Homo sapiens: one gene and its partner. The protein of the gene in region 1 interacts with the protein of each later gene in a pairwise test. Each region holds a gene or a part of one and is shown in the gene's direction. Other genes may lie near its edges.

The links.
Region 2: the proteins of VSIR (region 1) and SLC35B1 interact in a two-hybrid assay, tested with the Homo sapiens proteins (one large-scale study listed by BioGRID and IntAct).

Annotation. Positions count from the first base shown.
Region 1 is NC_000010.11:71,753,021-71,756,520, reverse strand, and holds part of VSIR (V-type immunoglobulin domain-containing suppressor of T-cell activation precursor), read left to right. Parts: intron 1-1,054; coding exon 1,055-1,162; intron 1,163-3,500.
Region 2 is NC_000017.11:49,705,865-49,709,464, reverse strand, and holds the start of SLC35B1 (solute carrier family 35 member B1), read left to right. Parts: upstream 1-1,500; 5' UTR 1,501-1,520; coding exon of another isoform or gene 1,521-1,631; coding exon 1,632-1,735; intron 1,736-2,020; coding exon of another isoform or gene 2,021-2,122; intron 2,123-2,396; coding exon 2,397-2,500; intron 2,501-3,130; coding exon 3,131-3,261; intron 3,262-3,568; coding exon 3,569-3,599; intron 3,600-3,600.

The DNA of each region.
Region 1 (3,500 bases):
GACCGCTAGGAATTTACTACAGATTTCCTTGCTGAGTGAGCCAGGCTGCGTGCACAAGTTCATTGCTACATTATTAGTTATGCTGAAAATGGAAACAACATGTCTACCAACAGGGGACTGCTTCAATAAATTTAGTGGGAGCCATGTGATAAAACTCTAAGCAGAATGAGGCAGGGGAGACAGAGAGATGTCCAAGCTGTGCTCAGTGGGAAAAGCATTGTCATATGATGCTGCGTCTGCTGTATTTGCAGGGAATATAACTAGGACCATAACACAAAAACCGGCACACAGGGATGATCTCTTCAGAGGGGGTCTTGGTACAAGGGGAGGAGGAGATTCGAATATTTTTTAAACTTGTACTTTTTTTGGTAGTTTAATAAGTTTAAAATTGAAAAACATTGTACAAGGATTCACGTTTTTCTAGTTCTCACCCCGGGTGTTTCTCCTGTGACTTGTGTGGTGAGATCAAGGGGTTCTAGAGGCCCCATCCCAGAGCTAAGGAGTCTCTGGGATGAGTTGGGGCTTTTTATCTATTATGATAAAACATATATAATGTAAAATTTGCCATTTCAACCATTTTAAGCCTACAGTTTGGTGGCATTAATTACATTCACAATGTGCAACCGTCACCACTGTCTATTTTCAAAACTTTCATCACTTAGGCTTCTTTTGACCTTGAGCTCTGTGGCATGGGGTCTGCGAAGGCCCTGCTCTCCCTTTTCAGAGAACAACCTGTAGCCAAGGGTGTTCCAGCTGTACCTTGTGGGCTGGGATGAGGACTCTGTTCCCTCTCTTGCCTGGAGCTGCCTGAGCTGTAGGTGACAGGTCTTGTTTCTGAGTGCTCCAGGGGCATAGGGCGGCAGGCACAGGGCTCTCTTTGAAAGGAGAACCGCCTTATCTTCCATGCCTCTGTAGGTTGCTGGGGGTCTAGCTGTGGGACTCTGGGGAAAGGCGGGTCTCCTGCTTCCTGGCCTTCCCTCTCTGAGCCTCAGTTTATGCTCAGGAGGAGCAATGGGAATGGGGCTTCACCTTGGCTACCTCTCTGCCCTTTCAGACATCACGGCTGCAGCCCTGGCTACGGGTGCCTGCATCGTAGGAATCCTCTGCCTCCCCCTCATCCTGCTCCTGGTCTACAAGCAAAGGCAGGCAGCCTCCAACCGCCGTGAGTATTCCTCCCTGCCTGGGGTGGGTGGACGGTGCGAGTGACCTGCTCCAGCCCCCAGTTCAGCCCCTGGGATTCGCAAAGGCACGATGCAGGCACAATTCCTTTTCATTTGAGAGTTGGGAGCAGCTGCACTTCCCGCCAGGAGCTGGGCGAAATGGCCGAGAGAAAGGAGGCATGCCATTTCCGGGGGCCAAGTGCCCACCAGCCCCTTTGGCTCCCAGGCAGTGCTGGCTCGGCACTCAATACATGTCTTCTGAATGAATGATCATATGCAGTAGCTCAAGTTGCTTTATAAAAGCAAGTTGCTGCCACTCAGAGATCCTTGGGGGACCTGTTTAAGGTATGGGCGTGCTTGTTTTGTAATTAGTAGCAATTGTTGGGACAAAAAATGATCTTTGGAATATCAGAAGTGGAAGGGGTCTTACAGACAACTTAGCTCAACCCTTTCTTTTTCCAGATGAGAAGGCTAAGATCAGTGGGGTTACATAACTGACTGAATGTTACGTAACTTAGTAAGTGGCAGAGCTAGGACTCAATCTCAGAGCTTTCAACGCATGCTCTTTCCAGGGAATAGAAGTCCACCATATAATAAAAATGCTCTCACTTACTCCTCATTGCAAGTCCAAGAATTTGGTCCTACCATTGTCCCCATTTTACTGATGGGCAAACGGAGGCACAGAGGGGTTAAGTAACTTGCCTAAGGAACCACACAGCAAATAAGTGGTGGGGCTGGGCTTTAAGTCATGGGCACAAACATCTTTCACCTCCCACCCTGGCCAGGTGACAGTGCCCCTTGCCTAGTTCCTGACCCTGCCCTTGAGTCTTGGTTAGTCTGAGTCCTCCAAGAAGGGGCTAGGGAGTTTTTTACCCTTGCCTCCCCTCCCTGGCCTCTTCCCGTCTGCCTGGCTACAGAGGTAACTGAGAAAGGATTGCTCTGGTGCCAGGTGGCTTTTGGCTCGCAACTTATTTCCTGTGGCCGGCCCTTAACAACTTGTCATCCCTCCCTCCCCTCATTCCCGGGGGCCCCCACGTGAAGCCCCATAGTGGGTCACTCGGGGGCTGTGGCCACCTCACCCTTGCTTTCAGAACTCCCCTATTCCTCTCCTAGAACACACCACAACCTACCTGCAGGAATACCCATGGCTGGGGGTGGGTGGGGGCAGGTAAAGGGCTTGGAACAGAAGAGCAACGCTGGGCAGCAGGGCAGGGGGAGCAGGTGTTGCTGTGCCCTCCCTGGTGGAAGGCTGGCCCAGAGAGCCTGCTCAGGAATGAGGCACTCTCAGGAAAAAAAGAAAAGGAAAGGGCTGGGAGCCTTGAGGACGGCAGTTTGCTGGAGAGGCCAACAGGTGTGGATTTCCATCCTGCTTTGGACTGAGCCTCAGTTTCCCCAGCTCTAAAATGGGACCAACAACCCTCACCCCAAAGGGTGGCACAGAGGATGAGATGAGGGAATACCCGTGTGCACCTGCACGAAGCCTGACCCATGAGTCGGCTGTAAGCAATAGCCATGGTTTGAATAGATTTCAGGAACTTTTGGGTAACTTCCCTGTGTTTGTTCTGTTGTTGTGCCCCTCCCCCACCATCTGTTTCCCCATCGTAATCAGCAGTAAATCTCCTTAAAACGAGAAGCATCTGTGGGAGGACATGGGGTGCTGCATGAAAGAGGGAAGTTGGGGTCACTGCATCTAATTGGTGGCCAGTTTGGGGGGTGGGGTGTCCCAAGGCTGAGGCAAGCGGCAGCAACTTGGATGAGAAGCAGAAAGTGAGTGAAGTGGCTGGGAAGTGATCGGGGACTTGCACCTTGTAAGGTTTCCCTGAGAGATGTCCCCTAGAATGCCACCCTATTAGGCAATGTAGGGGATAGGACAGAGAGGACCAGGAGCCCTCTAATTAGGAACTGACCTTAAACACTCCCACCCAGTAAGTCATGGCTAAAGACCAGAACCTGGCAAATGTTCAAACAAGAGACACCAGTTAGCAAATTCAAGAGTTGACCTTTGCTCGATACTTAAATCCTGAAGGTCTGACACTGTGTAAGTCAAGCCATAGGAGAAAGCGCTGGCTGCCTTTGGTCTCCTGATGGCAGATAGCGTTCTTACACTCCTGGAAAATGCAGATAGAGTTTCATTTATCAGTCGTCAAAATGGGCCCCTCATGGAGGCCCCATCTGCTGGACAGACACGCAGATCGCTTGCTGGACAGCACCCATGTGAAAAGAAATGGAGTCCGGAGCTGTGCAGGGCCCTCCTGGGCTCGCTCCTGTTCCCTGCAGGGCATCTGCCAGCAGGGGCAGGGATGTTGTATGGGGAAGCCTTCCCTTCCATGACCAGCTTCT
Region 2 (3,600 bases), on another chromosome or scaffold:
CCCCAAAAGACACAGATATGAAGTGGGAGAGCTAGGATTGGAAACCTGATCATTTGAATCCAGTGCCCATGTTTCTAACCACAGCGCTCTCCTGCTTGTTATTATATTCCCATTAATTTCACGTGAGGAAACTCGACTCAGGACAAGCGAATTGTTTGAGGTCCCAGCTGGTAAAGAAGTAGAGCTGGCAGGTCTCTCTTCCCAGCTATTTGGTGCCCTGGCATCGCGGGCTGAGCCAGTAGAGTAAGCTAGTGAGCAAGAGAGCAAATGTATGGGGCTTTCCCATGCCACTAATATCGAGGAGACAGTGGGCTGGGGACACCCTATCTTCTATCCCTTACTCCTCCCTCTAAAAGACTTCTGGCTCCCCCGCAAAGCCTTATTGAGTCAGGCCCGGAGCGATGGGTGTGGTGCTGCCCAGTATTTCCTTCCTTTGCCTGAGGCTGTGCCAAAAGAGCAGGCTGCTAGAAGAGGAGCCTCGACCTAGAGAGCAGCCCAGAGTCCACCAGGTGGCCGGAGATTTGGGCCAATTAAGTAGGGGGTTGGAGGTAGTAGTAGGAAGACCTGAGGTCAGTCTTGCCCTGGCAATTCGTGCCAGCAAGTGAAGACCCAACACTTGCATGAGGAAGGGATCCAACGAGGAGCTCATTAATGGGAAATATTCAGGAGCGCGGCCGAAGGGTTTGCGCCATTGTTGGTGAGTTGTTAAGACTTGGAAGAAAACTGACTTCAGTAAGCTTCCATTTCCACCCCTCGATGTGAGGAAATAAGATCAGGGCTGACAAACAGTGATGACTAATAATACCTTAAGCTTGCACAGCATACTTTACAGTTTACAAAACACTCTTATTTGATCCTCACAACAGCCAAGAGGCGACAAGGTGGCTATTACTAATTATCCCTAGTTTCCAGACCTGGAAAACTCTGGCTCAGAACTTGGGTGACACGGGTAGGTTACCCCGCCTTTAAGTGACCAAGCCGAGACTTACTGTGCCGCTCTCCCCCTTGGAAGCCTAGTGATGTGCCTAGGTAATGAGCAGGTAAAGTCGCTGACGCTGGGCAGCAGCTAGACGGCGCTGAAGCTCCAGTAAGGAATTTGGCATTAGGACCCAGCAGAAGCCTGGCCGCCCGCCGCGGAAAAGACTATTGGATTTGCTCTGCCGACCACACCTCCTCCCGCCCCGCCTACCTGTCCGTCTTCGCACAGCGCAGCCAATTGGTGGCCTCCACATCCTTATACGTCATTATTCTACGCCCAGGTGGCTCTAGGACACCCTGTGGTGCTCTGGGTCGCAGTTGTCCTCAGAGTTGCCTGATTGGAAAAATCTCCAGGGCGAGGGATCAGTCTCGAGGCTGCCGGTTCCCCTGGCCCTCAGGGATGGAGCCAAGGTCCCAGGGCGGGTTTTCTTTCCTAGGAAGTGGTTGCTGGGTTCTGAGGAGTTTCCCCCTTGGCAGCCATGAGCCGGCAGTTCTGGTAGTGACTGCTGGGCCCTGCTGGACAGCGGTCGCATGCAGCTCCTATGAGGCCCCTGCCGCCGGTCGGCGATGTCCGGCTGGAGCTGTCGCCTCCGCCGCCGCTGCTGCCGGTGCCGGTTGTGAGCGGGTCTCCAGTCGGCTCCTCTGGGCGTCTCATGGCCTCTAGCAGCTCCCTGGTGCCCGACCGGCTGCGCCTGCCGCTCTGCTTCCTGGGTGTCTTTGTCTGCTATTTTTACTATGGGATCCTGCAGGAAAAGATGTGAGCGACCCCGGGGGCGGGCCGACAGTCTCTCCCCAGCCTGTGACAGGGATCCCGGGCCTTCTGCCTCTGGACCCGGGCTTTCCTCTTGTCCTCCTGCCCGGCTGTCGCCCTCTTAGCACCCTACTACTTTTGCAGCTATGGCTGAGCCTACCCAGAATTCCAGAACTCCAGGATTATTTTCTGGATTCTTCGGACTTGGTTATTTTCTTTTCTTAGCTGTTTTTCCCCGCTTGGTTCTAAGGGCCTGCGTTTTACAGGCTGAGACTTCTATTCCTCAAACAGGACCCGAGTCGGCCCCCTTTTGGTACTCCCAGATGCTTGCAAACAACCTATTCGTCCTCGGCCTTGGTGCCATAGCCGAAATACCGTCTCCTCCTGCCTGGGGTACCTGATTTCACTATCTCGTTCTGCATGTTTCCTCTCCGTCTTTTTCGGGTATTCTTTTCTTAGGCTTTGGAATCAGTAGGCTGGGATGTCTAGTTTCTAGATCCAGTAAAATCAGCCCCTTTTGCAAATGAGCCTAGTGGTCCTTAACAAACTCTGCCTACATCCAGAGAGGCAAGATAATTTTAAAGTTTTCAGTGGCTCGGGATATATTAGATGACAGTGAGTGAAATACACTAATTTCTCCCTCTTTTCTCATGCATTTCATTTCTAGAACAAGAGGAAAGTATGGGGAAGGAGCCAAGCAGGAGACGTTCACCTTTGCCTTAACTTTGGTCTTCATTCAATGTGTGATCAATGCTGTGTTTGCCAAGATCTGTGAGTACCCAGATAGTAATTTGTTGGGTACCCCACCACCCCAAGTTCCCTCAGTATGCTGGGCATTAAGCATTGATTCAACCTTAAAGGCTAACTCATGATCTCCACCCCATTTTGTACTTACACAGCCTCTCTGTGAAGTCTGTAAAACTAATGACTTTGAAGTGGAGTAAAATATTATTTCCCCAATTTTTATCAGCTTCTGAGTTAGAAATGTTCAGAGAATGGGTCTTCTATATTCCAAATCCCCATTGAAAATACTTAAAACATTTTTTTCTTTCCCTTTGAGTTTCTTTTGTGTGTCAGCTTCAAGCATGCTTTGAGCATTCTCTCTTTGTTCCCTGGGGACTAGCAGCAGAGCTGACTGGTCCCTTGAACTGAATGAGGCCCCCACCTCCACCCTGCATGTGGTCTTTTGTTGGGCTTAGGTAGAATTGGAAAGATGAATAATTTTCAGAGATTTCCCAGTGTAACAGGACAGAAATAGCTTGTGTCTTGTTTGACAGACAAGTTCCTTTCATGTGGCTTCAGCTTTGCTTAGTGGTCCATCCTAGCCCCACCAGGTTTCTCTTGTTTTTTTTTTTTTTTCTTTTCTTTTCTTTTTTTTTTTTTTTTTTTGTCTTCTCCCAGTGATCCAGTTTTTTGACACTGCCAGGGTGGATCGTACCCGGAGCTGGCTCTATGCTGCCTGTTCTATCTCCTATCTGGGTGCCATGGTCTCCAGCAATTCAGCACTACAGTTTGTCAACTACCCAACTCAGGTGAAACCTCAGGGTGGGATGATGGTTGGCTCAGATATCATTTGAAAAGGACTAAGAGTTCTTCCCTCAGGTCTGTGAGTTAAAAAAAAAAAAAAAAAAAAGATAACGGTCCTGTAAGACATTGGGAGTGTATAGAACCATAGAACTTACGTTTAGTGGTGGTGGGTTGGGCCATGATAGGGCTGCTTTCTGAGGCTGAGGTCTCTGGTGCAGGCCCTGTGCTTACTCATCTTAATCAGTGCGGTACCTAGCATAGTACCTGACACATCACAGATGCTCAGAAATTATTTGCTGGATTTAATTTCAGGTCCTTGGTAAATCCTGCAAGCCAATCCCAGG